5 separate regions of the Homo sapiens genome follow, and regions 2, 3, 4 and 5 are each reported to be linked to region 1. Evidence: microRNA targets listed by miRTarBase, many of them from high-throughput screens and not tested one by one. Region 1 holds a microRNA gene; each other region holds the end of a gene's coding sequence.

Evidence for each region. The annotated mature microRNA hsa-miR-5092 reads AAUCCACGCUGAGCUUGGCAUC and lies in region 1 at 3,607-3,628, shown strand. An mRNA with a match to its seed (bases 2 to 7 or 8) in the 3' UTR can be bound and repressed. Matches are read on the target gene's strand: a 7mer-m8 pairs with bases 2 to 8, a 7mer-A1 pairs with bases 2 to 7 and ends in A, and an 8mer does both.
Region 2: miRTarBase lists FBXL14 as a target of hsa-miR-5092. Seed matches in the 3' UTR shown: 7mer-m8 at 5,752-5,758.
Region 3: miRTarBase lists ZSCAN25 as a target of hsa-miR-5092. Seed matches in the 3' UTR shown: 7mer-m8 at 3,579-3,585 and 8mer at 3,552-3,559.
Region 4: miRTarBase lists MRTO4 as a target of hsa-miR-5092. Seed matches in the 3' UTR shown: 7mer-m8 at 2,817-2,823.
Region 5: the mRNA of CLN6 is a reported target of hsa-miR-5092. Seed matches in the 3' UTR shown: 7mer-m8 at 828-834.

The regions. Positions count from the first base shown.
Region 1 is chr3:125,148,919-125,155,102 of GRCh38, reverse strand. It overlaps MIR5092 (microRNA 5092), which reads left to right and starts at 3,551; the gene lies at 3,551-3,638. All of the region lies in intron 5 of SLC12A8 (solute carrier family 12 member 8), which reads left to right. RefSeq lists a silencer at 174-223 and enhancers at 459-960, 5,783-5,852, 5,873-6,062, 6,173-6,184.
Region 2 is chr12:1,560,964-1,567,147 of GRCh38, forward strand. It overlaps FBXL14 (F-box and leucine rich repeat protein 14), which reads right to left. Exons shown (of 2, transcript NM_152441.3): 2 at 5,030-5,847. The coding sequence ends at 5,785. Among named protein-coding and RNA genes, the nearest start is that of FBXL14, 31 kb to the right of the region's middle.
Region 3 is chr7:99,628,503-99,634,686 of GRCh38, reverse strand. ZSCAN25 (zinc finger and SCAN domain containing 25) reads right to left here. Exons shown (of 8, transcript NM_145115.3): 8 at 2,279-5,496. The coding sequence ends at 4,667. Among named protein-coding and RNA genes, the nearest start is that of ZSCAN25, 15 kb to the right of the region's middle. RefSeq lists an enhancer at 4,204-4,850.
Region 4 is chr1:19,258,394-19,262,393 of GRCh38, reverse strand. It overlaps MRTO4 (MRT4 homolog, ribosome maturation factor), which reads right to left. Exons shown (of 8, transcript NM_016183.4): 7 at 3,841-3,917; 8 at 2,266-3,713. The coding sequence ends at 3,564. Among named protein-coding and RNA genes, the nearest start is that of MRTO4, 8.6 kb to the right of the region's middle.
Region 5 is chr15:68,202,652-68,208,835 of GRCh38, reverse strand. It overlaps CLN6 (CLN6 transmembrane ER protein), which reads left to right. Exons shown (of 7, transcript NM_017882.3): 7 at 426-1,844. The coding sequence ends at 696. CALML4 (calmodulin like 4) reads left to right here and starts at 3,504. Exons shown (of 5, transcript NM_033429.3): 1 at 3,504-3,591; 2 at 3,685-3,715. The coding sequence starts at 3,589. RefSeq lists an enhancer at 2,511-2,805.

The DNA of each region.
Region 1 (6,184 bases):
CATACGTTTTAAATTGCCCGCCATTCTGAGTAGCATGATGAAATCTTGCACCGTCTCACCCGGGACATGAACCCTGCTTTGTCCAGTGTGGCCACACCGTACACACCGCCTGCCATCAGTCACTTAGTACCTGGCTTGGTTATCAGGTCAACTGTCAAGTAGCAGAGGGCTTGAGCTCGAGGCCAATAATAGCCAAGTGCTATGTCACGATGCCTGCATCATCCGCCTCACTTCTCGTCACGTAGGCGTTTTATCATCTTACATCATCACAAGAAGAAGGGTGCATACAGCATGGTAAGCTATTTTGAGAGAGAGACGTTCACATAACTTTTATTATAGTATATTGTTAGAGTTGTTCTATTTTATTATTAATTATTGTGGTTGATATCTTCTTGTGCCTAATTTATAAATTAAACTTTACCATAGGTATGCATATATAGGAAAAAACGTGGTGTATATAGGGTTAGGTACTATCCTTGGTTTCAGGCATCCCCTGGGGGTCATGGGATGTACCCCTAATGGATAAGGGAGGGGGGATACTGTAATAGCTAATGTTTATTGAGCATTCTGTTTGTGCCAGGTGCTATACTAAGCATTATACATCTCACTATATCCTATCTATGGAGTCCCTGTGTGTTATTGTCCCCATGATAAAGATGAGATAACTGATGTTCAGAGAGGTTAGATTGCCCAGCAGTTATCCAGCTGGTAAGCAATGGAGCCAGAATTTGAGCCCTGGCTTCTGACCTCAGGGTCCATGTCCTTAACCATCAAGCTCACATTGTTTCCAGCTGCTGGGGCCGCCTGCTCTTCACTGACTGAATTAGAAAACAAGCAGGACACATAAGTCCCATGTAGGGCATGGCATTGAAAATGCAGTTTGCGAAGCTGCTGACTAGTGAAGTGAAAGGGGACGGTAGTTAAAGTATTTTGCACTGGGAGACTTGAAGCCAGCATTCTCTCTACCACTGTCTGTGGGACCCTAGGCCAGCACCCCAATATCTGTGGGTCTTCAGTTTCCCCATAATAAAACTTGATTTTAAAATTCATCATCTGGCCGGGCATGGTGACTCATGCCTGCAGTCCCAGCACTTTGGGAGGCCAAGGTGGGTGGGTCACCTGAGGTCAGGAGTTCGAGACCAGCCTGGCCAACATGGTAAAACCCTGTCTCTACTAAAAATACAAAAATTAGCTGGGTGTGGTGTCACGCGCCTGTAACCCCAGCTAGTCCAGAGCTCAAGGCCAATAATAGCCAAGTGCTATGTCACGATGCCTGCGTCATCCGCCCCACATTGTCTCGTCACATAGGCATTTTATCATCTTACAGCATCACAAGATTCTCCTGGTGAGGCAGGAGAATCGCTTGAACCTGGGAGGTGGAGGTTGCAGTGAGCCAAGGTCACACCACTGCACTCCAGCCTGGATGAGACAGTGAGACTCCATCTCAAAAAATATATAAATAAATAAATAAATACATAAATTTCATTATCTCTTAGAAGTCAGTGGGCTGCCCAGCCAGGGGCAGAACTTAGTGCGACACTTGCCCAACTCCTCGTATTTGTCTTGTACTTCCCAGCATGGGAGATGTGTCCTAAATGAAGAAGCACAAGAACATGCTATTGAGAAGAGTCCCTCAATTGCGGCCATCCTTTGGTGTTTCTGAAAGTAACAAAACAAGGCATCAGATATAGCAGAAAGAAGCACTGGTGGTAGCTGAGAGAGTTTGATAGGCAGCTACAGAAAATCCCCATACCTTGGATGTTGATGGCACGCGGTGCTGAGTAGGAAATGCAGAGGTCATTGTTTTTCAGGCTGTAAAAACCTCAAGCACAGGAATCCCATATTATTGCCGTTTTATCCTGGCATCTTGGAAAGTACCGGGCACATGGTTGGCTCTCGGTTGCACTTTGCTGAGTGACTGACTGGGAAACACACCAGAGTGGATCAGCATCCAGTGAGGCAGATGGATGGACACAGTCCTAGGAAACGTAATCTGCGCAGCTTGTGAAAGTGTGATGAGAGTTGCAGGAGAATGGAGTTGATGGAACAGATTGTCAGAGCACTGTCTCCAAAGAAGAGGAGTGGCAGGGTGGACGGAGCGCCTGGCTGCACACACACCTGTTCCGCCTCCCTTTCTTTCTTCCTCCCATCCTCCCACCCTATAGGTAGTCATCAAAGCCTACGGGGTGCCAGGAGGTAGGCTTTGGGATACAGCGGAGAATAGGATAGCGATGGTCCCTGCCCTCATGAAACAGGGAATCCATGTCAGCAATATATGCTTTTCTGATTAATGCTATCAGAACACATGCTTCTTGTTAGCCGTGTGGCTGTGGGCAAGTCACCGAAACCCTTTGAGTTTGTCCATCTGTCTAATGGAAAGAAATACCCTCCTGGAAGAGTGTTTTTTAAAGGATTAGAAATAATATGTCCAAAGTAGTTATTTTTTCTTTGAGTTTGGGGGGAGGGGTGGTTCCTTCTCTCTCTCCCCCTGCCAACTGTTTTCTAGAAAATCAGCACTTACTGGATATTGTAGAGAATAATTTTGGGGTTTTATTATTTTGAAGACGGTTTCTTCTGTTAAACTTCTTCCTGCATCCTCTTGAACTGGCAGAAATAAAAATGCTAGACTTTTAAAGATATGACACTCTAGAATCCTGATTGCTAAAAATGAAAAGCATTCTAAAGTAAATAAAATAACAAATTCAAACAGTAAATCTGTAATGACCGAATGAGCACCATTTTAAACTCACACGTACCAGAGGTGATCGTGGTATGAGGAATGAGCATGGTACATTCTGAAGCTCCTGAAGTAATCAAGGGACTTCTGTTATGGCCTAAAGCAAACAAACAGCCACCATACAAACCTATATACATTTCTATTTCTTTTCCCTCAAATTTCTACTTGAAGCAAAAGGAAAGTCACTTCTTGCTTTCTCTGCCCCAGTAACTGTGGGTGGCAGCCAGTTTTTGGAGCAGTTCTGGAGCAATTACTCTGCAATCCCAAATTCCTAGTGTATGAACAAATCTGCTCAGACATTATCAGGGAAGAAATACTGGAACCTGGATTTTAGTCCTGGCTCTGCCACTTTCTCAATCCTTGACCTTGGGGAAATCACCTAAGCGTCAGTTTCCTCCTCTAGAAAATAGAGAATAATAATATCTGCCTCACAGATTATTTAGAGATTAAATGATGTAATAAAACGTATTTCCTCAATTCCAAGTCACCATCAATTTTAATTCACACCAAATTTTCAGGTGGAAAAAAGCCTTACATTAAGTCCTCATGTTGCTTGTAAGACATCCAAATTTCAGAAAATCAAAATGTTTTTAAAAAGTTATACTCAAAATGAGCAACTACTATAAATACGATTGCCTTGGCAAAGGAAGATTCTAAATAAACGTAAGACAGTCTTGTTATCGTGGTCATCCTCCCTGGGCGGAGGATCTGCAATCTGTGCCTGGGTTTCCCTGTCGCCACCACTCTGCTAAGCAGCCGGAAGCAGGGCTGCCCCTTCAGCATTTCTCTTGAGACCTACCGCACCCCCTCACAATCCCAGATCAGATGCCAAAGCCAGTGGGGACTGGACAACATGATGAGCCCAAACCAATCCACGCTGAGCTTGGCATCTGATTTGGGATTCTCCACCTTGCAGAGAATCGGAAAGTATCTCCACAATTTCTTTTGGACCGAGCTGTTCTTCCCTTTCCATGAGTTTCTTTTACACCTGACCTAGAGCCTCTCAACCATTTTTATGTCACTGCACAGCCAGAAAATGATAATATTTGTACAGCACTCCAGGGAAAAGGGAGGAACAGTTGGGCCAAGAGGCCAATGACTTCACCATCTGGAACCCATTCAGGGCATTCCAGCGTGGCCCACCTTCTCCAATTAGCCTCCTCAATGAAAAAGAAAGAGGGGGAGGAAGAGGAAGAGAAAAGAAGAAGAAAACCCTGGTAATGTTCACTGTTTTTTGCTTTAGAATTATAAGGGCACTTTAGTTTTTCGAAGCGTCTTTATGATAATGGTCTGGTATAGTGATCAAAATACCCTTGGGCTTGAAGTGCCATAAACAAACAAGTTGTGATACTTGCGTGTGTATCAGAATCCCTGAGGAAACTTGGTGTGTGTGTGTGAGCGCGTTTCCTAATAGCCTGAGGCCCGGGAATCTGGATTGTAAGAAGTGCTCCAGGTAGTTTTTTATCATGATTTTTAAGTCAGCTCTGGGAACTACTGTCTTCGAGGCCCTTGGAAGGTTTCTCCTGGCACTCTACCTTTCATGTTCTGCATTGCTCATTCTATTTTCCCCTGTAAAGGTAGCCTTTTTGATGCAGTAGTCCAAACCTCGTCTTGCGGTGCCCTTGTATATGTGCTCAGTCCTACCCCCTAGTGTACAAGAATCGCACTGCAAGGAGTAGATAATCAGCTGACCTGTGGGACCAGAAGCTCAGCCTCTCAGGCTTGCAATGTTCTCTGAGAACAGTGTGTCTCAGCGTTTGGTTTGGAGATTTCCTGTATCGGAATTATCTAGAAACTCATTAGAAAAACAGTCTGATCCATACTCTCAAATTTTGGACTAGTAATCTACATTTTAGGTAAGCATACTGGAAATTCTTATGTACATTCAGATTTGGAAACTACTACGTATATGGGATTTACTAATCCTATTGATCTGTAAAGGGTTAATTTGACTCACACATTGTTACCTGTCTTTGACAGGCCCCTTACTGCGAAATAACCATCCATGTACACAATGGACCCCTTGGAGTAACCAGCCTTGCTTCCAATATGACTGTTGGGGTAGTAACCAGGAGAAGGTGCTTAGGCCCTAAATTCTGTCACTGAAGCCAATGGTATGATTAAAGCTCAATGTGAAGACTTGAATACAACACATCCCACCCTCATTTTAGTTTCATCTGGCAATTGAGGTGTTTTTGCTTTGGCCATTATGGGTCTCCCAATCAGAGTGGAGCTTCTAGAATAAGTATTTTTAACATAGAGTCCTTGAGCCCCTGAAGTTGCATGCAAAATTGTATGTAAATAAGTGTATTTTTCTAGGACAGGGTTCAGAACTACTGCCAGATTCTCAAAGGCATTCTTGACCTGAAGGGGGAAAGATTAAGGATTAGAACAGAGGTACTTTTCAGGGTTAGAACAGTGAAGAATTATAAACAAAGGCTCATGTCCAGGTAAGGATTTCTGAGCCTCTGCAGACCAAGCCTGACCAATTGTCCAGCATTCCCCAAAATCCACCTGCTCTCCCTCCTCTTTTCTTTGTGCCTCATCCTTTCTTCCTTTATGCTTTTCTCTCTCTGTTTTTTCTCCCCAATCCTTTTGTCTCTCTTTTTCCCCTCTGCCCCCACTTTGCCATCTCCCCATCCCTCCTCACCTTCCATTTCTTCTCTTTCTCTCCCTTCCTGGCCTGAATAGGAAGCAAAGCATGTTCTTTGACTTGTTCTACCTGTTGAATATTTTCAATATTCCACTTATTTTATGTTGGTGGTTCTTGTTTGTAAAATTATGTGAGTTGCACATTTAATATTTCTCTGGCTAGATGAGAAACTAATGCTTTAGGCATCCTTGTTCCTTGATTGTTTGGATCCAGCCCTTGTTAGAAGGCTTTCTGTGGGCAGTGGTCCCCATCACCCCTGGCCAGCAGCAGGCATGCCTTAGGCCTCCCTCTTGTTCTGAGATTGATTCTGATGAAGAAAAACTGACTGACCAGAATCCCAGACCCCTGGCTCTGAGCCCCTACCCTGATCCCAAAACCCAGCTGTCTCTACTGGATTATTCTCATTTGCTGGCTTTGGCTTGGGGATCAGAGAAAGGAGCCATGGGCTGAAGAGGCCGTGGGACCTGGTCAAGTTTGCAGAAGGAAGTGCGAGCGAGCGCTGCCCAGCTTCGACCCCCGAGTCTGCTCCCACTCTGTGACTCTGTGAGCAGGAGGGATGGGCTGGCCCGACTCCCTGGCTGGGCGTTCCGGGTATGGATGCCTGCCACATGCAGTCACCAGCTGGGGAGGGCCCTTCCACACTTCTGAGCCTCGCCCGCCTCAGCCCTGAGCAGCTGGGAGTTCCGAGGAAGCGATGGGTGACCGCTGAGGGGTGGGCCGACACATCCTGCCTGTGCCCCCCCGCTGCTGGTTTGTGTTCCTCTCACTGCACGTGGCAGGTGTCCCCTGGCTGT
Region 2 (6,184 bases), not on the chromosome of region 1:
TCCTGAATGCCTGGATGGACGGTCATTGAAATGAATGAATGGATGGGCGGATGGATGGACAGATGGATGGATGGATGGAATAACTAAGGGAGTTTGTCTTGATTTACCTTGCCAACCTTAGATCCCATCATTCCCATTCAAGCAGTCTGTCCTTCACCAAATGTTTGGGTTCAGTTCTCCATACTCTTCCCTTTCTTTCTCCCCTCAAGTTCAGGTTCCAGCCCTCATCCAAGGCCCAGCTCAAGTTCCGCTTCAGTGCTGCTGCCTCCCCTGAGATGTTTGCCTTTTCCTAACTCTCACAATATTGTATTGGTGCCTTTTCTGTGGCACTCTTTGCTTCGGCTTTGGATTATAGTAATTTATCCCAGAACTCTTTCGTTAAAAGGGATCTGACATATGGACTAAGACCAAAATATCTGTGTTGGATCACTTGGGGACATTTTTAAAATTACTACAGATCCCTGAACCCCACACTTAAGATTCCGATGAGCAAGTCTGGGGTGGGTCCCTGGAATATGTACTTCTAAAAGCTTCCCCAGGCAATTGTGATACTCAGCCACGTTTGGGAACCATTAATCCAGTCCAACCTCCTCATTTTATTTATGGGGAAACTGAGGTCCAAAATTGTTAAATTATTTCCCCAAGATCACTTAATTAGTGGCAGAGGCATCCAATTATGTGGTTATGGTTGTCCTAGCTTTTTAATCAGATTTAAGCAGTTCAGAAGCAGTGCCTGTACTTTGCTCATCTTTGTGACCTGTGTAAGTACCACCTGTGCACCTCAGTCAAGACAGGCCATTCACAGTAAGTGCCACTATTAGTGACACAATAGGTGGCTACACTGCACGCTCCAAGGAGACAGATGCCAGGTCTGTTCCTACTAACGTTTATTTCCAGCACCTCACACAGTGCCTGACATGTAGTAAGGTGCTTAATTAATATTGATCAAATGAACAAAGCATCTGCTATACGCCAGGCACTATAGTAGAAGCTTTACATACATCATCTCATTTCGTGTATTCCAACTACAACCCTGTGAAGAAGGCTTTCATATTCTCATTTTAAAGACGAAGAAACAGGGCCGGGCACGGTCACACCTGTAATCCCAGCACTTTGGCAGGCCAAGGTGGGTGGATCACCTGAGGTCAGGAGTTCGAGACCAGCCTGGCCAACGTGGTGAAACCCCATCTCTCCTAAAAATAGAAAAATTAGCCAGGCGCGGTAGCATGCACCTGTAATTCCAGCTACTCAGGAGGCTGAGGCAGGAGAATTGCTTGAACCTGGTAGGTGCAGGTTGCAGTGAGCCGAGATTACGCCACTGCACTCCAGCCTAGGCGACAGAGTGAGACTCTGTCTCAAAAAAATATAAATAAATAAATAAATAAATAAATAAATAAAGATGAGGAAACAGGACCAGAGGCTAGGTCGTCTGCTCTATGTCACGCAGGAAACAATCAGCATAACTGAGCTCTAAAGCCCATTGCTCTTTCTACAGTGCTGCAGGATGGCCATGCTCCACCCTCCGTGCTCTTCAGAAAGCTGGGGGTCATTCCAAAACAATATATGGGGAGAGGTATTCAAAAGCCCCAAATGTTTAGAAGCCTCAGTTTTGTTCTCAGCTCTAACATAGCCTTGCTGCTCCATGAGGTAATGTAAAAGGTAGTTCTACTGCAACTTGTATTGTGTATGTTCTAGAACATTCAGTACTCCTACCACTTGCATGCTTATATGTGTATGACTCGATACTATCAAAAGCTTTACAAGTATTTCATCCTCTTTCCCTTGTGTGTGTGTGTGTGTGTGTGTGTGTGTGTGTGTGTGTGTGTGTGTGTGTGTTTAATGCTATTAAAATTCTCCTCCCTTTGTAGGGCAGCAGTGCCAGGACTAGGGCAAACAGAGTTCAAAGAGTGTCCCGGCATGAACTATTCTAATACCAGGTTTCAGATATGAGCTAATGGCTGAGAAACAGGAGTCAGGGATGTGAGTTGGCCCCACACACCTAGTCCCCTGCCCAGACCACTTGCGCAGTGAGTGGGTTCTTTTGTACCAGAGGAATCGCGTGCCAGGGACCCAGCCTCTAAAAATGACAGGGTTCTGACTCCACTGTCAGGCATGAGAGGGAGACCGAAGTCGCCACATCCCAGAGACTGAGTTTCAGCTCCGCCATCTGAAATGTTTCTGTTTTTTTCTTTCCAATTTGATGTTTTCCTTGGATGCTGGCCTTGAGTTTATACTCCATGTAGACAGTTTCCTCATTCCTCGTGGCCTCCTTTTCATTGCTGTTGCTTCCTCAATCGGTCCTTAGTGAAACGCCAATCTCAGTGGTGTGGGAACGAGTATGAGAGACCTCGCTCTAGGTGCTCGCACGGAACTTCCGGCCCCACAAGCTGACGCCCCACCGTGTCCTCCGTGGCTGCCTCCACCTGCCCCTGCAGCTTTCAAATATGTCTGTCATTGCTTTCAAATTCTCACTTATCTTCCCTTCTTTTTTTAAATTAAAAAAAAATGTTTCAGAGGCAGGGTCTTGCTGTGTTGCCAGGCTGGAGTGCAGTGGGACCATCGTGGCTCACTGCAGCCTTAAACTCTGGGGCTCAAGTGATCCCCCTCCTCAGCATCACAAGTAGCTGGGACCACAGGCGTGCACCATCATGCCTATTTCATTCGTTTAAATTGCCTTGAACAGAATTACATTAATAAGGGCTCTGATCTCATAAATAACCCAAGATTCCTTGGTGTTGAGGCTGGAATCACAGAGCCACCTCCTAGAAAGGCCCATCGAAGCCTTGGGGGAGCCTCAGAACTGCAGGCTTAGGGCGGCTGATGGTTCTTTTCCTCCTGTCTGTGCCAGGGTAGCAAACTGCATATCACAGCAGATTACTTGGAAGATAACTAAATGAGATATAGGGATGAACTCCTTGGGATGCTGGGATATCAGTGTTGGATTTCATAATATGCAACCACTTTTATGGTGAGGGATTTGGAAGCCAACTGCTGTCGGAATTACTGAAGGTGCCAACATGAGGCCAATATACGCAATATAGGCAAAACCTATTTATAGTAATGTCCCAAACACCATCCAAATTCTTTTGCAGTATAATACTAAACTGTTGCTGATTAAATCTTACTGAAGTCTGTAGACCATAAGCTGGGTTTGAATTTTTTTAAAAAGTAAATTTTCTCTGTAGCAATACATTTAATGGAATCTGATCTATATTACTTCTGCCAAGAAGGAATTCAGAATTACCAATTGGAGTTAATGTGGTACAAAGAACTAGAAACCTCTCATTCTCAGGAAATGGACAGGGCAGGGGGAGTCCTTAATGAAAACACTGTGTCAGTAATTTTTGTGGCTTAAGATCACCACGTGTAGTTCCATGGGTTCAGAATAGATTCTCAGAGATGGGGGTTATAGTAGAAAGAGCAAAGGATTAAGCATCAGGAACCAGATTTACCCCTAGTCCCGTAACCCTGGGTAATTTACCTGCCTTCTTTGTGTTCCCATTTCCTCACCTATAGGAATGGAGGGATTGCGCAGGGTGCAGTGGCTCGTGCCTGTAACCCCAGCACTGCTGGGGGACCAAGGTGGGAAGATTGCTTGAGGCCAGAAGTTCAAGGCTGCAGTGAGTTATGATAGTGCCCCTGCACTCCAGCCTGGGTGACAGGGCAACACCTTGTTTAAAAACATAAAAATAGGCCAGGCACGGTGGCTCATGCCTGTAATCCCAGCACTTTGGGAGGCCAAGGTGGGTGGATCACCTGAGGTCAGGAGTTGGAGACCAGCTTGGCCAACAGGGCGAAACCCTGTCTCTACTAAAAATACAAAAATTAGCCGGATGGGGTGGCGTGTGCCTATAATCCCAGCTACACAGGATGCTGAGGCACGAGAATCACTTGAACCCAGAAGGTGGAGGTTGCAGTGAGCGGGGATTGTGCCACTGCACTCCAGGCTGGGTGACAAGAGTCAAATTCCGTCTCAAAAATAAATAAATAAATAATACAAATAAAAACAAACAAAAAACAATAAAAATTGAGGAATTGGGCTAGATAAGTGGTTTTCGAGACAGAACTTTGAGACAGTTCTTACTTAGGGGCCAGTGGAGATCTCCTCTCCTACCCAATTTTCAACTACATAAATGTTATTTGTTTTGCTTCAACATATGATTTTAGTGGAAAAATAGAGTTCTCCTTCTTTAAAAACATTTTTTTTAAAAAACCACTGGACTAGCTAATTCCTACTCCTAAACCTTTGTAATTCAATATAAGGTCTACCCATCAAATTGTTTAGACTCCTGGATGATACTCATGTTTTTAGGAAGGGTTCCTACACCCAAAGCCCAGGTCAGCCAGTTTCTGCGTGTAGGCAAGTTACTGCGTTAGGACTCTTGTACTAGTGTACAATCTAGAAGTTGCATTGGGGCAGCAGGGAGAGAATTCTTATCAGTGAGTGTTTAGCCTCGTTGTACACAGCAGTTACCAGAACAATTAAGAGAGACAAAAGTTCTCCAACACCTTGATCATCTCTGGTAGACAGCTTTGGAAGACACACATACCGTCTACTTCTTCGGACTTCCTAAGCTGTGGAATAGGGATTCAGTGTCTGTGGTATGAAACGGGGTCTGAGAGTTTCATCCCATCAAACTGACAGGGTAATTTTGAGATGGGGCAACAGGAATTGTAATACTGGGGCAATATTTGCTTGTCATCAGTTTGACATCTTCTTGACATGTGCTCTTTTTGACCCCAGTGATTCTTCATTGATCCCCATGTAAGGTGTCCCATTCCCCCATCCACACTGACTCACCACCAGGAATTGTTGTGTGTTCTGAAGAGGCTCAACCAGTTTCATTTGCCTTCTGTTCAGCTTCCCTCCATCTCTTATCCCCAGTCCTCTGTAAATCCTTACTCCTTCATTAAGTATTCCCTGATTCATGGAAGTGACATGATCCGGTTTAGTTTACAAAACCAGGAAATTATTCCTCTGGACCAGAGAGAGAGAGAGAGAACAAGAAACAACAACAAAAAACCCAAATGGAATCTATAAAGGGAAGACAGATATATTCTACATTGTTCCCATTAAAATGGAAACCCCGTGGGGAGAGGAAATGCATCTGTGGAATGTAGAGTGGATTTCTTTCACATATGGGCACTCAGTAAACATTATTAATGAATGATAATGATTTGTCAGTGATTGAAATTGTTTCAGGGCAGGAACAGGGAATGAAATACGTAGACATTCCTCTATCTCATGGGGAAACTGCTAGGCAGGTCATCCAGATGTATTTTCTTTGGGGAGTTGTGAATTCCTTGTGTGTCCAGCTATCACTATGTAATGATATTTTACGTTCTCAGTAATACATATCATCATTATATATATCATCATCTTATATGTATATATATAATACCCCTGTACATAGATATATGTACACATGTATATATTTATATGTATAAAATTAAAGTGTGGAACTTGTAGTTTCCTGTCGAAGAAGCTTGCAAATTGCAATTCCATCCTAGCAAGTAAAAAGCTGAACAGACTGAAAAAGCAAGTCTCCTTGGATCCATAAAGGAAGCGAGGTCTCAGAGCAAACCACTGTCCCCAGAACTGGAGAAACCGGCAGGAGAATGCAGCTTCACAAGGTACCGGAGCAGAAGCCCTGGGCAGCAGCCTCTGCCCGAGCAGTGACAGGCAGGGAAACCTGAGCTGTCATCACCAGAGTGCCGGAGGCGCAGAGCGGGCAAGTCTGGAAGTTAAAGATCCACGGGAACCATGTCGTTGTCCCCTCTCCCTCACCTTCTGGAGCTTCCCCGAGTTCTCACAGTGAATAATGGAGAAAAATCCCCTCGTGCCTCCTGCAGTGGGAAGAAGAAAAAGGACCATTTTGAAAGAGACTGCCGCACTCTGCTCTTCCTAACGAGGTCGCCTCCCCTAACCCCACCGCGGCTTTATCAGCGCCTAACTGACCTGGGGGAAGGGAAACTCCCACGCCAGCCCACTCTAGCCATCTCCCGGCTCACTTAAGGTGGGGGCGGGAGGGAGGACGGAGACTCATTTGTGAATGTTCAGCTGAGGGGTGCAAGCTCACCAAAACTCTGAGGCCTGATTGTAGACTATAGAGTAGACCTTCCCACCGCACACTCACGGCCTCTTTACAGCAGCTGCCTTTACCCGGTCACAGCCACTATCAAG
Region 3 (6,184 bases), not on the chromosome of region 1:
TAGCTAGGACTACAGGTGCCCACCACCATGCCCAGCTAATTTTGTTTTTTTATATATTTTTAGTAGAGATGGGGTTTCACTGTGTTAACCAGGATGGTCTCAATCTCCTGACCTTGTGATCCACCTGCCTCGGACTCCCAAAGTGCTGGGATTACAGGCGTGAGCCACCGCGCCTGGCCAAATTTTTGCATTTTTAATAAAGACAAGGTCTCACCATGTTGTCCAGGCTGGTCTCGAACTCCTGGCTTCAGGTGATCCGCCCGCCTCGGCCTCCCAAAGAGCTGGGATTACAGGCGTGAGCCACCGCACCTGGCTGAAACCAGCTTATTTTTTAAGAAACAAAGGTTCTCCTTGCCTCTCAGCTGGGATAAAACAGGTACTGAAAGTATTTTAAGCATAATCAGCCTGCAGACAACACCCATAGCACACACTATGACATGGACCAAACTTTCTTGATGAAATATTTCCCCAGGACAGACCTTAGGCAGTTACCTGGTTCTACCACCACCCAGGGGAGAAAACAGAGTTTCTCTTGCAAAGGACAACAGCCTCCCTCATTACCCAGCAGCACGGCACATGCAGCCAGACACTGAAGGTGTACAGCATCATCACAATGTGAGGCAACCACAGATGCCTTGTCATACAAAAGGAGGCCCATCTATGAGTTGACCAAATACCCGTTTGACCTGGAGAGTCCCGGTTTACACCACTGTCCCAGCATAATAAATAGCACCCACTTTCACTCTCAAAAGGGGCAGGAAATACGGAACATTTGCCTGGAACATCTTGTCATGCCAGAAAGCAAAGAAGCTGTCAATGAGAATTAGGGTTATGTCAAAAGGATTCAGGAGCCAAGGTCCAGGGGCCTCCACTGGTCAAAGGTGAAATAATTTGAGCATCAAATTATAACTCCAGCAGACTGATCAATACCAAGTATGTTTAAATCCATGAGTGCAGGCCAGGTGCAGTGGCCCACACCTGTAATCTCAATACTTTGCAAGGCCAAGGAAGGGGTAGCACCTTAGCCTGGCAGTTTGAGGCTGCAGTGAACTACAATTGCACCACTGCATTCCAGCCTGGGTGACAGAGCAAGACTCTGTCTCAAAAAAACCAATAAAAGCAAAAAGCTATGAATGCATTGATTTCTACAGACTTGACTGCCTTTACAGGAAGCAAAAAGTAACTAGCTCATTATTCTGAAAACAGGCAAATAAAGAGGAGGATCAAGCATTTTCTTGCCTTCCCTGTATGAACTATATCTAAGGGTAACCTAAGTTAATGAAGGGAAATTTCTTACAATATTCCAACTACTAAATGATGAAGCATTTACAGAACTAACGAAAGAAGCAGATCTAGGCTTCTAAAATCATATGAAGAGAAACAGGGCATGTCACAATCTATAATGTGTTCTTGCCAAAATGTGAAATATGAATCTGATTACACCACTAAACACTTCTACATTTTTAGATAATACAGAAGGCAGGGAAATATGTTAAATCACGCCATGGGTATGCAAACAGAAAATGCAGAATGATTAGCTGGGCATGGTGGCACATGCCTGTAATCCCAGCTACTTGGGAGGCTGAGGCAGGAGAATCGCTTGAACCCGGGACAGGGAGGTTGCGGTGAGCTGAGACTGTGCCACTGCACTCCAGCCTGGGCAACAGAGCGAGACTCCAGCTCAAAAAAAAAAAAAACAACAGAAAATGCAGAATGTAAAAAACTCTCCAGGATAAATGATCGAGTTTTTTAAAATGAATAAATCTCAAGAAGAAAAGGATAAGTACTACAGATTATAAGCCTTAAGAGACAAAGCAACAAATTATATTATATTGAAAAATTAGGTGGGTTCTTAAAATTCACTGGATATTTTGACATTAAGGAACTGTTTTGTTTTGAGACAGGGTCTTGCTCTGTCTCCCAGGCTGGAGTGCAATGGCACAATCAGGGCTCACTGCAACCTCAACCTCTTGGGGTCAAGTGATGCCCAGCCTCAGCCTCCTGAATAGCTGGGACCACAGGCATGCACCACCCATGCCCAGTTAATATTTGTTTGTAGATGAGGTCTCACTATGTTGCTCAGGCTGGTCTCGAACTCCTCTCAAGCAATCCCACCTTGGCCTCCCAAAGTGGTGGGATCACAGGTGTAAGCCACCACACCCAGCCGCCCTTACCTTTTACAGGTACACACTGAAATGGTTATAAACAACACTTGGGATACACTTCGAAACTTCAGTGGGGGAGGAAGACGGGGAGGAAGGAGTGGACAGAGATGAAACAAGATTGATTATGAGTTTATAATAAAGTCAAATGATAAATACATAAGGATTTATTTATATAGGTTTGAAATTATCTATTATAAAAAAATTTCTAAAGAATAGAAAAATACAGAAAACAAAATATTTCTTAACATTTGAATAGATATGAAAAATCAGACTACCACAATCCCATGGGAAAAACCCCCTACTTAGAGGCTTTTCTGAGACACTGTCCTAAGCTCTTGGCCCCACAGGAGATAGGGAAGAGGCCAGATAGGAAAGTCAGCAAGGCCCAGCTCCTTCTGAAGCTTAAGATATGCCAACTTGCTGAAACCCAGAGGAATGCTGGCTGTGTATGACAAAAGAGCATCTGTGATTCAGGTAATGACAAGCAGCCCCCCGAGGCCTCCCCAGTCCCCACCTGCCTTTGGAAAACCACCCTCTGGGGAAGGCCACACTCAGGCCAGAAGCCTCCCACTGAGTCTGCCTGGCTGTCAGCCCTGCCTAGCTGCTCTGATAATTACGGGGGAAAAAAAGCTGATTTTGCATGTGGACCTCAGTATTACAGAGGAGCAGCAGCAGCCCCGTGTGGACATCTCAGATACATTTACGACCCAGTCAGTGCAGCCTCGTGGGCACAGCTAATGAGCCAGGAAGACCAAGGAGCGTCATTTGCTAAGCCAAAATTAGACACCATGCTGCCTAACAAGAACAGGTGATAAAACCACGTTTCAAAGTGGGCTGAGTAATACAGCTTTGTGTTAGTCATTACCATTTACCTTATTTACAATGGAAAATGAAAAAAAAAAATCTCAGTAAAAGAATCTGGTATTAAGAGGCATCAGAAGACAAACCACATTTTGCAATTATAGGACACTATCAACAAAGGACAAACTCACTCACTCAGCCAGGGTTCAAAGGCACAGCACAATGACACAGCAGTCAGTCCACGCTAGTTATGCAGCTTCCAGAACTTTAAACAGAAATGAAACCCTTAAGTGATGGCACAATAAGGAAGCTTCAACAGTTTACAAATATTGCATCTTCTCATTTTTAAAGAAATGTATTTTTTTTTAATGCCTACAAATATCTTTATTTTTCCTGACTTGGCACTCATGCAAAACAGGTCGCTACCAGCTCATCATCCCCAGTGGGTGTCCAGGACCCCTAGTGCCTTGGATGACAAGGGTCTGGAGGGCAGAGACCATTTAGTAACAAGAGGTAGGTGACAAATGCATTTCAGGGCAAGATGCTGACAAAGCAATGAATACAGGCCCAGAGGATTTGCAGGAATATCCACGGGTTCTGAAGATCAGGTACATCCACGAGACATAAGCTCTACGAGGTCAACAGCTTCTCCCCCTATTTTATTCATGGATGTGTCTCAAGCACCCAGAAGAGTTCCTGACATGTTTGTTACAGGGCCTCAATAAATACTTGGGAAATGGGTCCAATGAGAATGGGGTGAAATTAATTTTATGAACTATAAAGTGCCATCAAATATAGGGCATTAATACTAGAGTTCATCTTTCAGACTCATTTTAATTATAACAGTTCTTTCTAGAGAACTGTTTTTTAAAATACTCTGATGTTTATTCAGTGATCAATAGCAAAATACTAACTTCCTAATAGTTGGTGTGTTGACAGTTGTTATAGTGCAAGGAATAATGGACGGGGAAGTTTTACAGATGAGGATAGAATGTTATAGCCTGACACAGATGAGGCTCCAAATAATGTAAAATTCACACAGTTGCCTGGGAGCAGATCCCAGCTGGGGAGGGAAGATCCAGCACGGGGCAGGAGGGCAGGAGTGGTCATGGGAAGATGTTCTCACGGGCACACAGCACAGATACCCTGAGAATGCCTCGGGTCATGGGCTGTCGCATGCATCCCCAACGCACAACCCCCAGAGGCATCACGTCTAGTCTCTCATTCACCACGGCATTCCCACGGCCAGGTGCTCAGAGGATGTTCAATAAATGTTTGTTCAATGGAAAAGAGAGGGGGTGGGGGAAGAGTCTGAGCTATGACCCTGCAGGCAAGACAGAGCCCTCAGGAAGATGAGGTCCCAGCTACCAACACGTGTCAAGGTTTTGCCTTTACTCCCAGCTTTGTTCGGCAGGGGGACACAGACAGTCCACTGAAGGAGAAAATCTCAGCCTGAACTGAACCGCAGGAGACTGCTTCCCTCAAACATTGGAAGAAAAATTGTTTAGCACCACTTGGGTAAGAGATGGAAGCAGCTATGCTCTCTGGAAGCTCTAAGTAAGCCAGGCCTTGCCTTTCCCGCGTTGGCGAATGGGTGGGAAGGCGATGGGACCAGTGCTTTCCTGCAGCCATCACCTTGCACCCCGCAAGGCCCTGCAGTGAGAAAGATGAATGATGGTGCTGCCTGCCACCTGCTATGCTCACTGCACCAGCGGCTCCTGGCGGTGCTGGGTCTTCTGGTGCCGGTTGAGGATGGACCTCTGGTTGAAGCTTCGCCCGCAGGCAGGACAGTGGTAGGGCTTCTCCCCTGTATGGATTCTCTGGTGTCGGACCAGCCGCTCCCCTTTGCTGAACCGCTTCCCGCACACCTGGCACCCATATGGCTTCTCGCCAGTGTGGGCACGCCGGTGCACCGCCAGATTGGCATTCCTGCTGAAGCTCTTGCCACACTCGCAGGTGTAGGGCTTCTCCCCGGTGTGCGTCCTCCGGTGCACCTGCAGGTGCTGCCTGCGGCTGAAGCTCTTCCAGCAGTCCCCGCACTTGTAGGGCTTCTCCCCAGTGTGGCTGCGCTGGTGCACCTCCAGGTGGTGTCTCTGGCTGAAGGTTTTCCAGCACTCGCTGCACACGTAGGGCCTCTTTCCCAGGTGGGTTCTCTGGTGCTTCATCAGGTATTCTCTCAGGGTAAAGCCCTTCCCACACTCCACACAGCCATAAGACTTCTCTTCGTGGGTTCGCTGGTGCCTGACGAGATTGGAGCTCCGACTGAATCCTTTCCCACACTCAGGGCACTGGAAAGGCTTCCAGAAGGAGCTGTGGGTTTTGACTTCGTCAGGCAGGGGGATGGCACCGTGCTGGGGAGGAGGAAGCCCAGGCGCACTGCCTGCAGGGCCACCAGGCTCCTGCTCACAGACCCTTCCGAGCCCAGGGCCCTGGAGAGAGGCTTCCCCAAACCTCTCTGATGTCAGTGCCACCAGCGCCCCTTTCAGGTCTTCCTGTGGGGGTTTTGCCTCCTTTTCCTTGCTCCCACCGCCTACAGGACAGGAGGAGATAAAGATTGATTCTGTGGTAGCCGCAGGACATTTACATGTTAGAACTCTGCTTCACAGGGGTCCCATTCATGGTTCCTTCTCTTTTTTCCTTTGACCAACAACCTCAACTCAGGCTTTCCTTACTTCTTTTTCCTTATTTCCACCTCCATGTCTTTTTACAGAATAGTCTGCCAAATTCCAGTGCCCGCCCACTTATCTTGCTGCTAATCTAGACCTTTACTTCTTACAAAATGTAGCTCAATAATTTCCTCTAAGACACTCACCACGATTATTCTCTTACTCTGGGCCTCTTCAGCACTGTGCACCTAACTAGCACTTTATTATTCTGTACCTATTTACATGTGACTTTGTTGGAAATGCTGTTTCCATTCATCCAGATGTCCTGCGCCTTCCCCAAACGATTCTACACCTGCTGTAGCACAGGGCAGCACACAGCTCTCCAGACCTTCCAGGTGCCTGCTCAGTCCCCTGTCCTGCCCACATGCTCCCTCTGCCTAACCAGGTTCATTCATCTGGGTCTCCTAGGAGCCTGGCAGGGGACTGACTCAGGGAAGATGCTTGCTAACTGCTGGCTGAATGAATGAAGCAGGCTTCACTGAGGCTCCTGCAGGAGAACGCCCCTAGGTAGCATATTTATCAGGACTGAGACCATGACGCTGCTGAAATGCT
Region 4 (4,000 bases), not on the chromosome of region 1:
TCAGTGCTTCAGGGACCTGGGTGCAGGCAACCGCCCTGAGATGACCCCTAGTACTGACCCCCGTGCAATACCCTCCCCCAACCCAGCTTCTGGAACAAGCACCACTTCAAGGCCATGGCCCTGGTGGAGCAGGTCCTGCAGATTGTGTATATAGCACCAGTGCCCCTGGCATGGCCTTGACTGTCCTGCGATGGACCACTCGCAAGCTGCAGGTAACCCAGCTGTCTCTAGATGCTCAGCTGCTTCTCTCAAATTCTGTGGGGGTGGGGAGACTGGGGAAGCTGCGAGGGCTATGCAGTCATTTGGTCACTTTGACCAAGAGGAGTTAAGTCCTTTTCTTCCTATGAAGGCTCTCCATGGCCCAGTTCTTTTGGGTGGGGTAAACCTGTTCTTACACAAATTACTTAAGCGGCCAGGTAACCAACACTAGTTATTGCGATGGCCATGTTAAGTATGGTCATCTCAGTTTTACATGAGGCAACTGGCTCAGAGGCAATTTCACTTGTGTAGGGTCCCACAGCTACACATGGTAGGGAACGAACGTGGGTTTGACTGAAACTAATGTTTTTCTTTTTGGGGGGACAAGGTCTTCCTCTTGTCACCCAGGCTGGAGTGCAGTGGCTTGATCATGGTTCACTGCAGCCTTGACCTCCAGGGCTCAGGCAATGCTCCGCTTCAGTCTCCCATGTAGCTGGGACCACAGGCATACACCACCATGTGACTAACTTCTGTATTTTTTGTAGAGACAGGGGTCTCACTACATTGCCTGGGCTGATCTTTTTTTTTTTTTTGAGACAGAGTCTAGCTCTGTCACCCAGGCTGAGTGTAGTGCTGTGATCTCGGCTCACTGCAAGCTCCGCCTCCCAGGTTCAAGCCATTCTCCTGCCTCAGCCTCCCGAGTAGCTGGGACTACAGGCGCCCGTCACCATGCCCAGCTAATTTTTTGTATTTTTAGTAGAGACGGGGTTTCACCGTGTTAGCCAGGATGGTCTCCATCTCCTGACCTCGTAATCCGCCTGCCTCGGCCTCCCAAAGGGCTGGGATTACAGGCATGAGCCACCGTGCCCGGCCTGAGCCTGGGCTGATCTTGAGTCTTTGGGCTCAAGCAATCCGCCCACCTCAGCATTCCAAATTGCTAGGATTACAGGTGCAAGCCACTGCATCTGGTCTGAAACCTACATTTTTAACCATTAGCTTTTCCTGGCTCCTTGGCTGCCCACCCTGGAGACAGCCCAACCCTGTGTGTAGTGGCAGGGTTTCCCTCTCCCTGCTGTCCCTAACCCCCTTCTCCAGCTTGGGTATTATATGGTTATGGCTTCCCTTTAGTGAGCACGTTACGTGCCTGGTCTGCAGGCAAAGTGCTTCACACAATTTCTAATTCAGACAAGCGGCCTGAAGTCTGAAGCTGAAAGGCTGGGTGACTGACCTGGGTTTACCCAGCTGCTGAGCAGCAGATGAGTGGCTCTGAAGTCAGCTGTCTAAAGCTGAGACAGCGTGGAGGCAGGGCTTTAAAGCCCAACGGTCATGGCTGTTTGCAAGCAGTAATGCAAGGCATACGTGAATAACCAGAGCCCAGTTAGCGGCGGGGCCATGGCTGGGAGGGGCATGATTAGTCACTGTGCAGCAGAAATGTGTTGAAGTCTAGCTGTCTCCCTTACAGGGCATGCATAGGGACGTGGTCATCCTGGATGGAGCAATTGGAGAAACTGGCAGCAGCAAAGGGACCCTGGACTCGGCTGTCACAGAGGCCGCCGACCAAGCCTGGCACCTGACCATCCCACTACCTCCTCCAGGTCTGGCTAGACCTGGCTCAGGTGCGGAGGGCACCACCTGCCACCCTTCATTCTCTCCCCCTGGCCAGTTTTGGCCTTAAATGGTTGTAGGCTGCTTTCCCCTCTCAGCCCGGTTTGCAGATCCTCCCCTACACTCGTGCAGTCTTCCCAGTCATCCTCACAAGGCGAGAGGGCCGGGCCTGAGCTCTCCTTCAGCACTTCCTGCTGAGGCTGGTGCTTGACCTGGCCTAGGCCTGGGTGAACATGGTGAATTCCTCTTCTGCCCGAAGCCTGCTTCCTGCTGTCCTTCCCAAGGGCGTGGTGAGAAGTGGGCGGGAGTAGGAAGTCTCCAAAGAACAGAGGCACTGAGAGGGTGTCAGAGGCACAATGCCGTTGTGAAGGTCACCCCACACCGTGGGACCCAGCCTGACCTCCCAACAGCAGGGCTGGAGGTGGCCCTCTTCCATGCATGGCAGAAAAAAGAGGGCCACTGTACACCCTGAAGCTGATTTACTCTCATTCAGAACTGCTTTCATGAAATACAAATAGAACAATGTGGGCTGGATGCGGTGGCTCACACCTATAATCCCAGCACTTTGGGAGGCCAAGGTGGGTAGATCGCTTGAGCTCAGGAGTTTGAGACCAGCCTGGGCAACATGGTGAAACCCCATCTCTCCTTAAAATTTTAAAACAGAAAAATCAAAAACAAACAAAAGCAAATAGAACAAGGTGGACAAAAATCTACCATTAGAGTCACCAAGGATAAAACCTCCCAGGATGCCGTGGACACTTTAGACGCTGGCTCTCAACTCTTGCAGTGATGTCACTCTCAGCCCAAGGCTGTCTTCCTGGCATCCATCAGATCCGCAGCCCTGGTTTGGAAGTGTGTGGAGGGCTAGGAAGGATACCTAATTTTCCTCAGCAAATCCCTCTGCCAAGGGGTACCCAGGACTGAAGAGAAACCCCAGCTCTGGTGTGGAGCTGTGCTGTCATGGCAGTGCCAAGGCAGCCAGTGGAAGTTGGCTGACAAGGCAAACTGAGGCAATCCACGCAGAATTCAATGGCCACCCAGGCTGGAGTGCAGTGGCATGATCATGGCTCACTGAGCCTCCAACTCTCAGGCTTAAGCAATTCTCCCACCTCAGCCTCCCAAGCAGTGGGGACCACAGGCAAGTGGCACCACGACTAATTTTTTTTTATTTTTTGTAGAGACGGGATCTTGCTGAATTGCCCAGGCTGGTTTCAAACTTCTGGGCTCACCAAAGGCCTCTTTTCTAAGAAAGAGCCCTCTCCCTCCTCTCCCTCTTGCTGTCTCCAGGAGAGACATCCTGCAAGGTTGTATTCTTTTTTTTTTTTTGGGACAGAGTTTTACTCTGTTGCCCAGGCTGGAGAGCAGTGGTCCAATCTCAACTCACGGCAACCTCCACCTCCCGGGTTCAAGTGATTCTCCTGCCTCAGCCTCCTGAGTAGCTGGGACTACAGGCACATGCCACTATGCCCAACTAGTTTTTTTTTCTATTTTTAGTAGAGACGGGGTTTCACCGTGTTAGCCAGGATGGTCTTAATCTCCCGACCTTATGATCTGCCCACCTCGGCTTCCCAAAGTGCTGGGATTCCAGGCGTGAGCCACCGCGCCCGGCCCACAGTTTTATTCTTTACAGGAGGTCAGTGCCCATCATGTTCCCTGTCTACAGACAAATAAAAAGCTGCTCTCTCCAGAGGGGCGGCAGCAGTCCTGATGGTCCAGTGAGACCCAGAAGCTTCCAGGAGACCTTCAGTCCCGAGTCCCTTTCAGTCATCATCTTCTGAGTCTGACTCTTCTGTGGACTCAGATGCGCTCTCTGGCAAGTCGTCTCCCATCTGCTGGAACCTTCCCGACTGTGAATCCCACATGTATTTGATGGTCACCTTGAATTCAGCCATCTCATACCCAAAAAGCTTCTGCAAGAGACAAAGGGAACAAAGAATCAGGAGGAATGAAGGTATTCAAAGTGCAGGGGGGCATTTTCAGCAGGCAGAGGAAAGCCAGCAACCCCGCCCGCAACAGCCCGCAAGGCGCCAGACTCACCAGGACGCGAGCCTGCTCTGGGGTCAGCACATCGCCCTCCTTGCACACCTCGTAGTCAGACAGCAGAGTCACCACACCTGCAGAAGAGGGTGGCTCTCAGTTACCTCTGGCCCAGAGGCCTGCAGAGCCCTCTCTGCCCTGGTCATGTTGGGAGGAATCC
Region 5 (6,184 bases), not on the chromosome of region 1:
GTGGCAGCTACAGTGAGCGGGAAAGACGTTAGGGGAGCGCTTCCTGCTGGTTCTTACCCCGGCATCCTGCCGCGGGGGTGGCTGCCGTCGTAATGGCAATTGTTTGTTGCTTTCTCCTCTAGTCAGTTTTTGTTGTGTGGAAGTATAAACTTAATGTGACCAGAGAAGCCAGAAATATACATTTGTAGGTATTCTGTTATTTAAATATTGGCAACAAACTCAACATTTAAAAAACAGTAACTATACCAGCTAAATCAATATGCTGCCCATGGGCTGTGGCTTAGAGCGGCATAGTTCTCTGAGCCCTGGCACCAGAGGACTCTTCTGCCTGCCTGGAGGGCAGCCTGGCTCTCGCACACAGGAAGGGATGCCAGGCAGGACGGGGTTGCCACGGCAGCTGCCTCACTCACCCCTGGCCTTTCCAGGTACCTGGTCACCGAGGGCCAGATCTTCATCCTCTTCATCTTCACCTTCTTCGCCATGCTGGCCCTCGTCCTGCACCAGAAGCGCAAGCGCCTCTTCCTGGACAGCAACGGCCTCTTCCTCTTCTCCTCCTTCGCACTGACCCTCTTGCTTGTGGCGCTCTGGGTCGCCTGGCTGTGGAATGACCCTGTTCTCAGGAAGAAGTACCCGGGTGTCATCTACGTCCCTGAGCCCTGGGCTTTCTACACCCTTCACGTCAGCAGTCGGCACTGAGTCCCTGGCACCAGGCTCTGGCGCTCTGCTGGGTGGGAGGGTGGGCCATGGAGGGCATCTGAATACAGGAGTAGGGGGGGTGTGGGTGTGTAACCAGAGACCGAGAGCATGAGTGGGGTGTGCCTCGTGTGCGTGGATTCGTGTGTGTGTGTGTGTGTGTCTTGTATATGTGTGCGCAGAGTGCATCATTTTCAGACTCTACTATTTCCGTCAAGTTTCTGTTTGATTTGGATCATCTCAGGATCGGATTCTGTTTTAGAGTGTTTCTGGGCCAGGATCCGGGCCCCTGCCCTCCTCTGCACCTGACCACACTCCCTACTCAGGGCTAGTCTGTTCTTCCCGGACATCTTCTGGTAGCCGTGCAGGAGAGGGCTGGGTGGGGCAGAGGCCAGGAGGGGACCTGGTGTGTCACCTGCCCACCACCTGGCTCATCCCTCAGGCCCACCCTGACCCTACATTACATAGGTTACGTCAGCCTACTGTGGCTGTTGAGCAAAGCATTTCTCCTTTCTGGGCCTCATTTGCACTAGATGGGCCTGTGGTCCCAAAGTAGGTCAGTAGGTTGGGGTTGCTGACACCCCTTGGGTGCAGCTTTGGGACAGATGAGTGGCTCTGTCCTGTCACTGCCCTCTCCCTGCCTGGGGGCTATGTGCACTCCAGACCCCTGCCCAGGCTCAGGCCCATGAGGTATGGAGACACCCTGGCCCCCAGGAGCTGGAGGCACCGCCCACTCCCCTGGCATTCCAGCTTTGCAGGTGACCCTCCTCTACCCAAAGCTCTGTCCCCCTGCTCCCACTCCAGAAGAACTGCGGCACGCGCTTCGGGCAGCCTAGCCACAGGCTTTGAGCGCCTGCATTCCTGGGGGCTGGAGGGTGGGGTGCCAAAGGCCCTGAGCAAAAGCCAGAGCTCCTCTCATCAAAGCCTTTACAAGGTGCTGGGCCCAGAGGCTTTGCCTTGACAGAGTGGCCCAGGGTTTCAAGGGAGGAGGAACCTCCCCCTACCTAGGACCCTTCCTGTGGGGGGTCTACAGAGTCAGGGACAGAAGGGAAGGGACCCACAGGAAGTCACAGTGGTGCCCAGGGATGTGTCAGCCCCCAGCCACGGGGACGCGGGATTCAAGAATGAAGTAAATACAGTCACAGCCCCAAGTGGTGTTAGAGGTGTTTTTTGTCTTTTCTCCCTTTCGTGCTGAGGTGTAGCACACACGGTGCGCCCTACAGCATGGTGAGTTGCTGTATCGTGAACCCTCACGCAGCCATTGCCCCACGCTGGTGTTTTCCATCTGTGCGTCACCCCCGGAGACACCTACACACATAAGGAGGGAGTTGGCCGGGGCACCCCAGCACACACTGGCCTAACTCCAAGGAGGCACCTCATCTCTTCTGGAGCCCCTTCCCACAGGCAAGGGGATTCAGAGGGAGCATGTTGGCCTGGCCGCCTTCAGGCTTCCAGAGTCCCAAGTGACTTTCCTTGATGTCCTTCTCTCCATCCTCTGCACAGAGGCAGCCTTCCCTCCTCTTATCCCTGCCATGGGGTTTGGGAGGGGGAGCCTCAAACTCTGACAGGGAGGAGTCGGAGTCCCCAGCTAAAATTCTCTGGGTCTAGAAACAGGTGTAAAGCGATTCTGGGGATGTGATTTGGGAGAAAAGCACACTTTCCACACAGAGGCGGTCAGGAAAGGAGCGGGGAGGGGAGAGTGGGGCACAGGCAGCGCCTCCCGTCTATGCGCCTGTGTGCAAAGTGGCACAATGCCCCCCTTCCTATTGGCAGTGCAGCCCCTGGCCAGCAACCACTCGCACCTGGGCTGGGGGCCTTTGTGTAGGGCACACCTGTGCAGCCACACCTACTTGTAGAGCCTCATAGACTCAGCTGTGGACAAAAGCCTCACGCCCCAAACAGGGAAATGGGATCTCAAGGGGAAGAAGCTGGGGAGGCCTCACACCCTGCCCCCATTTCCTCCTATGTGGGGGAGGGGAGCAGCACGAACTCCTGAAGACTTGGGAGCGTCAGCAGCTTCTGCGGAAGGGGTGGGGCTGAGGGTGGAGAGAGGAAGGGAAGGAAGAAAAGGGGAGCCTTCCTGGCCAGGGTAACCGGCACTAAGAGGCCTCACTCCAAGCCCCCGAGGAGCCTGTGGTGGGGCTGGAGACCCGGCTCAGGCCCCTCCACCACCCTTAAAGTCCTCAGAAGGTGGGAACTGAACTGGCACAGGATGGGAACCGGCTGTGCGCTGGCCACTTGATTTTGCCAGCTGCCCTGTAATTCAGCTGGTGAGGAAACTGAGGCACAGACTGAGGTAGAATGATTCGCCAGTCACTCAGCAAGTCAGCAGACGGGGAGGACTGAATCCCAGCCTGAGAGCACCGAAGCTTGTATCCCTGCAATACCGAGCCCCAAGCCTGCGAGCCCCGGTGCCCATCTCTGAGTTAGGCCGTCTTGGAAGGGTTCCCTTCCTCCTACAAGATGGTGTGTGAGGAGCCTTCAATACGACCCGGGGTGTAAAGTGTCCAACTCTAGTAGGGGCCTGATGGCATCCCCGCCGAGTCCCAGGAGAGAGAGAGAAGACCCCTTCCTGGAGTCCAGGGCTCCCGGGAAGAAACACTGGCATTTGTCCCTTTGCTTCGGCTTCTGGAGGCAGAGACTCTGAGCCCAGGGAGAGCCTTCTGCAGCCCCATTTCCTCAAAAATCCAACCTGCCCAGGTGGCGGGTCATGAGCTGTGCTCAGGAAGCTGGAATCTGACCCTGGTGGCGTCGGGCCCAGTCTCCATGGCAGCCGAGCATTTATTACCCGGGCCTCCACCCAGCTTGGCAGACTTTAGACTTGAGGCTGGAGGAAAGGGAACTGAACGCGGTTCTGGGAGCAGCAAGCCCACGGGTAGCAGCCGAGGCCCCAGAATGGTGAGTGTGAGGGTCTGTGTCGGCCTGGCCAGGGCTGGGGGCGTGAACCTCAGGTGGAGCCCTCCCCTGACTGTTTTCCTTTCTCTGCTGCAGGCCAAGTTTCTTTCCCAAGACCAAATTAATGGTAGGTTGGGTTTGTTCTTTGATTAGCAACTCAGCAAAATATGGGTCTCATTAGGCAATTTGCTCTGCTCATGTTTTCTTGGTGGGAAGGAAGGTGGCTGTGGGAGAGCTGGGCCCACCCAGGGCCAAGAGCTGCGGGGAGGCTGCTGTTGGCGGGGTGGGGGTTGGGGGTAAGCCTCCAAAATAGACATGTGGCTTTATACTTGTCAGTGTGACTTACAAGCCAGGGCGCTAAGACAGAACTTACTAGGTTTCCCTCCAGAACCTGACCAGTTGGATTTGGGGACTGAGGGGACTGGGGATGGAGAGAGAGACCATTAAAGGTATGGCTGGCAGCAGGGAAAGAGGAGGGGCTTTGTAATTGAGACAGAACAGAGGCCAGGTCTGCACTCTCTGGCAGGATGCGTCTACTCTCTGCGCCTCAGTCTCCCTATCTGTAAAATGGAGGGTCCACTGAGCCCCCTTTGCCCTGGCATCAAGCCTGGTTTGGGCGTGAGCACTTTATTCCCTGGGTCCCCTACTCTGCCAGCCCTCGACCAGGCTTCAGTTTCACACCGTGCAGGGTTCTATTTCCAGAAGGCCAAGAGCAAAGAGTTGCGTTACAAAGAACTTGGGGGCCCAGACCTGAGCCAGGGGAGCCTCATGGCTGCAGCCCCCCTGCACCTGGCAGGAGAGGCCCAGGAGGCACAGCCAGCTGCTGCTTGAGGTTGTGACCCTGAAACCTGTCCCAACAGTGGACGTCAATGGGCCTGAGAGTCCCCCGAGGCATCCCATTCCTCCAGGTCTTTGCTGAAACATCGCCTTCTCAGTGAGTCCTTCGCTGACCACTGGAGATAAAATTACAGGCACCTTGGGCCCTTGTGATCCAGGGTAGGGTCCTGAGAGCCCAGCCAAGTGGGGTTAGGGTTACCTGGGCAGGAGTTCCAGAGTTCTGGGTATTCTGAGCTTGGTCCAGAGGGGCAGGAATTGTGAGCTCCAGGTGGGCACCTCCACGTAGAACCCTGGAACTCTTTATCCCAAGAGGAGGGCCAGGGCAGGAGCAGGGACTTTTAAAACACAGGGCCCGGGGCAGTGCCCTCTTGTCCAGGTCTAACGGTGATAATGAATGGTGGACTGAGGGCTGGAGTCCAGCCTTCAGCCTCAGCATCCTCCCACCCATGCCTGGTTTTGAGGCTCACTGACCCTCCCTCCTGGGATAGCCAAAGCTCCCAGAAGGGAAGAAGGTAAATTGTCTTTGTATCCCAGTATCTGACACCAAGAAAGTGGCCACCAGTGTTTAATGAGTGTGTGAAAGACTGGATGGGGTGGCCTAGCGAAGTGGGAAGAACAGGGGCTTTGGAGGCAGCAGACCTGAAGCCTAATCACCCTTGAGCCTCGGTTTTCTCACCTATGAAGTAGGATATGCCACCTTACCAGGCTGCTGCGAGCCACGGACAGAGGGGAATAATGTCAGTTACATGCTGGACGCTGGGCCAGGCATAGCCAGGTGTCACCCACATGTGGGCTGGGGCTGGCTCACTACAGCTAGCAAGAGCCATAGTTTTAGGAATTTTGCAAGCAGGATGTTAAAGCCAGCCATTATTAAATAATGTAGGATCAAACAGTGTTTCAATCCCTACATCTATCTGTACAAAAAGTTAAAAAGACAGCCCTATTGTGATCAGTGGAGATGGAGATTTGAAAGAAGTTTCAATTTAATGAATGTGTTTGGTAAAAGGGTGAGAAATAGTTTAACAGTAGATCACATCAGGTTTAATGACCATTCATTCATTGGAAAAAGAATCGCACTCATTGGCGCGCAGCTTCATTTGTCAAATCATGGTTGAATCGAAACTATAGGTTGGCAATGGATATAAGAGTTGGCAAAACTTGGGCTGAGTGCAGTGGCTCACGTCTGTAATCCCAGCACTTTGGGAGGCCGAGGCATGTGGATCACCTGATGTCAGGGGTTTGAAACCAGCCTGGCCAACATGGTGAAACCCCATCTCTACTAAAAATACAAAACTGGCCAGGTGCAGTTGGCTCATGCCTGTAATCCCAGCACTTTGAGAGACCGAGGGAGGCAGATCACCTGAGGTCAGGAGTTTGAGACCAGCCTGGCCAACATGGTGAAACCCTATCTCTACTAAAAGTACAAAAATTAGCCTGGTGTGCTGGCAGGCACCTGTAATTCCAGCTACTCAGGAGGCTGAGGCAGGAGAATCACTTGAACCCAGGAGGCGGAGGTTGCAGTGAACCGAGATTGAGCCACTACACTCCAGCCTGGGCAACAAGAGCGAGACTCTGTCTCAAAAAAAAAAAAAAAAAAAAAAAAGCCGGTCATGGTGGCACATGCCTATAATCCCAGCTTCTTGGGAGGCTGAGGCAGGAGAATCACTTGAACCTGGGAGGTGGAGGCTGCAGTGAGCTGAAATTGTGCCATTGCACTCTAGCCTGGGCAACAAGAGCAAAACTCTCTCAAAAAAAAAAA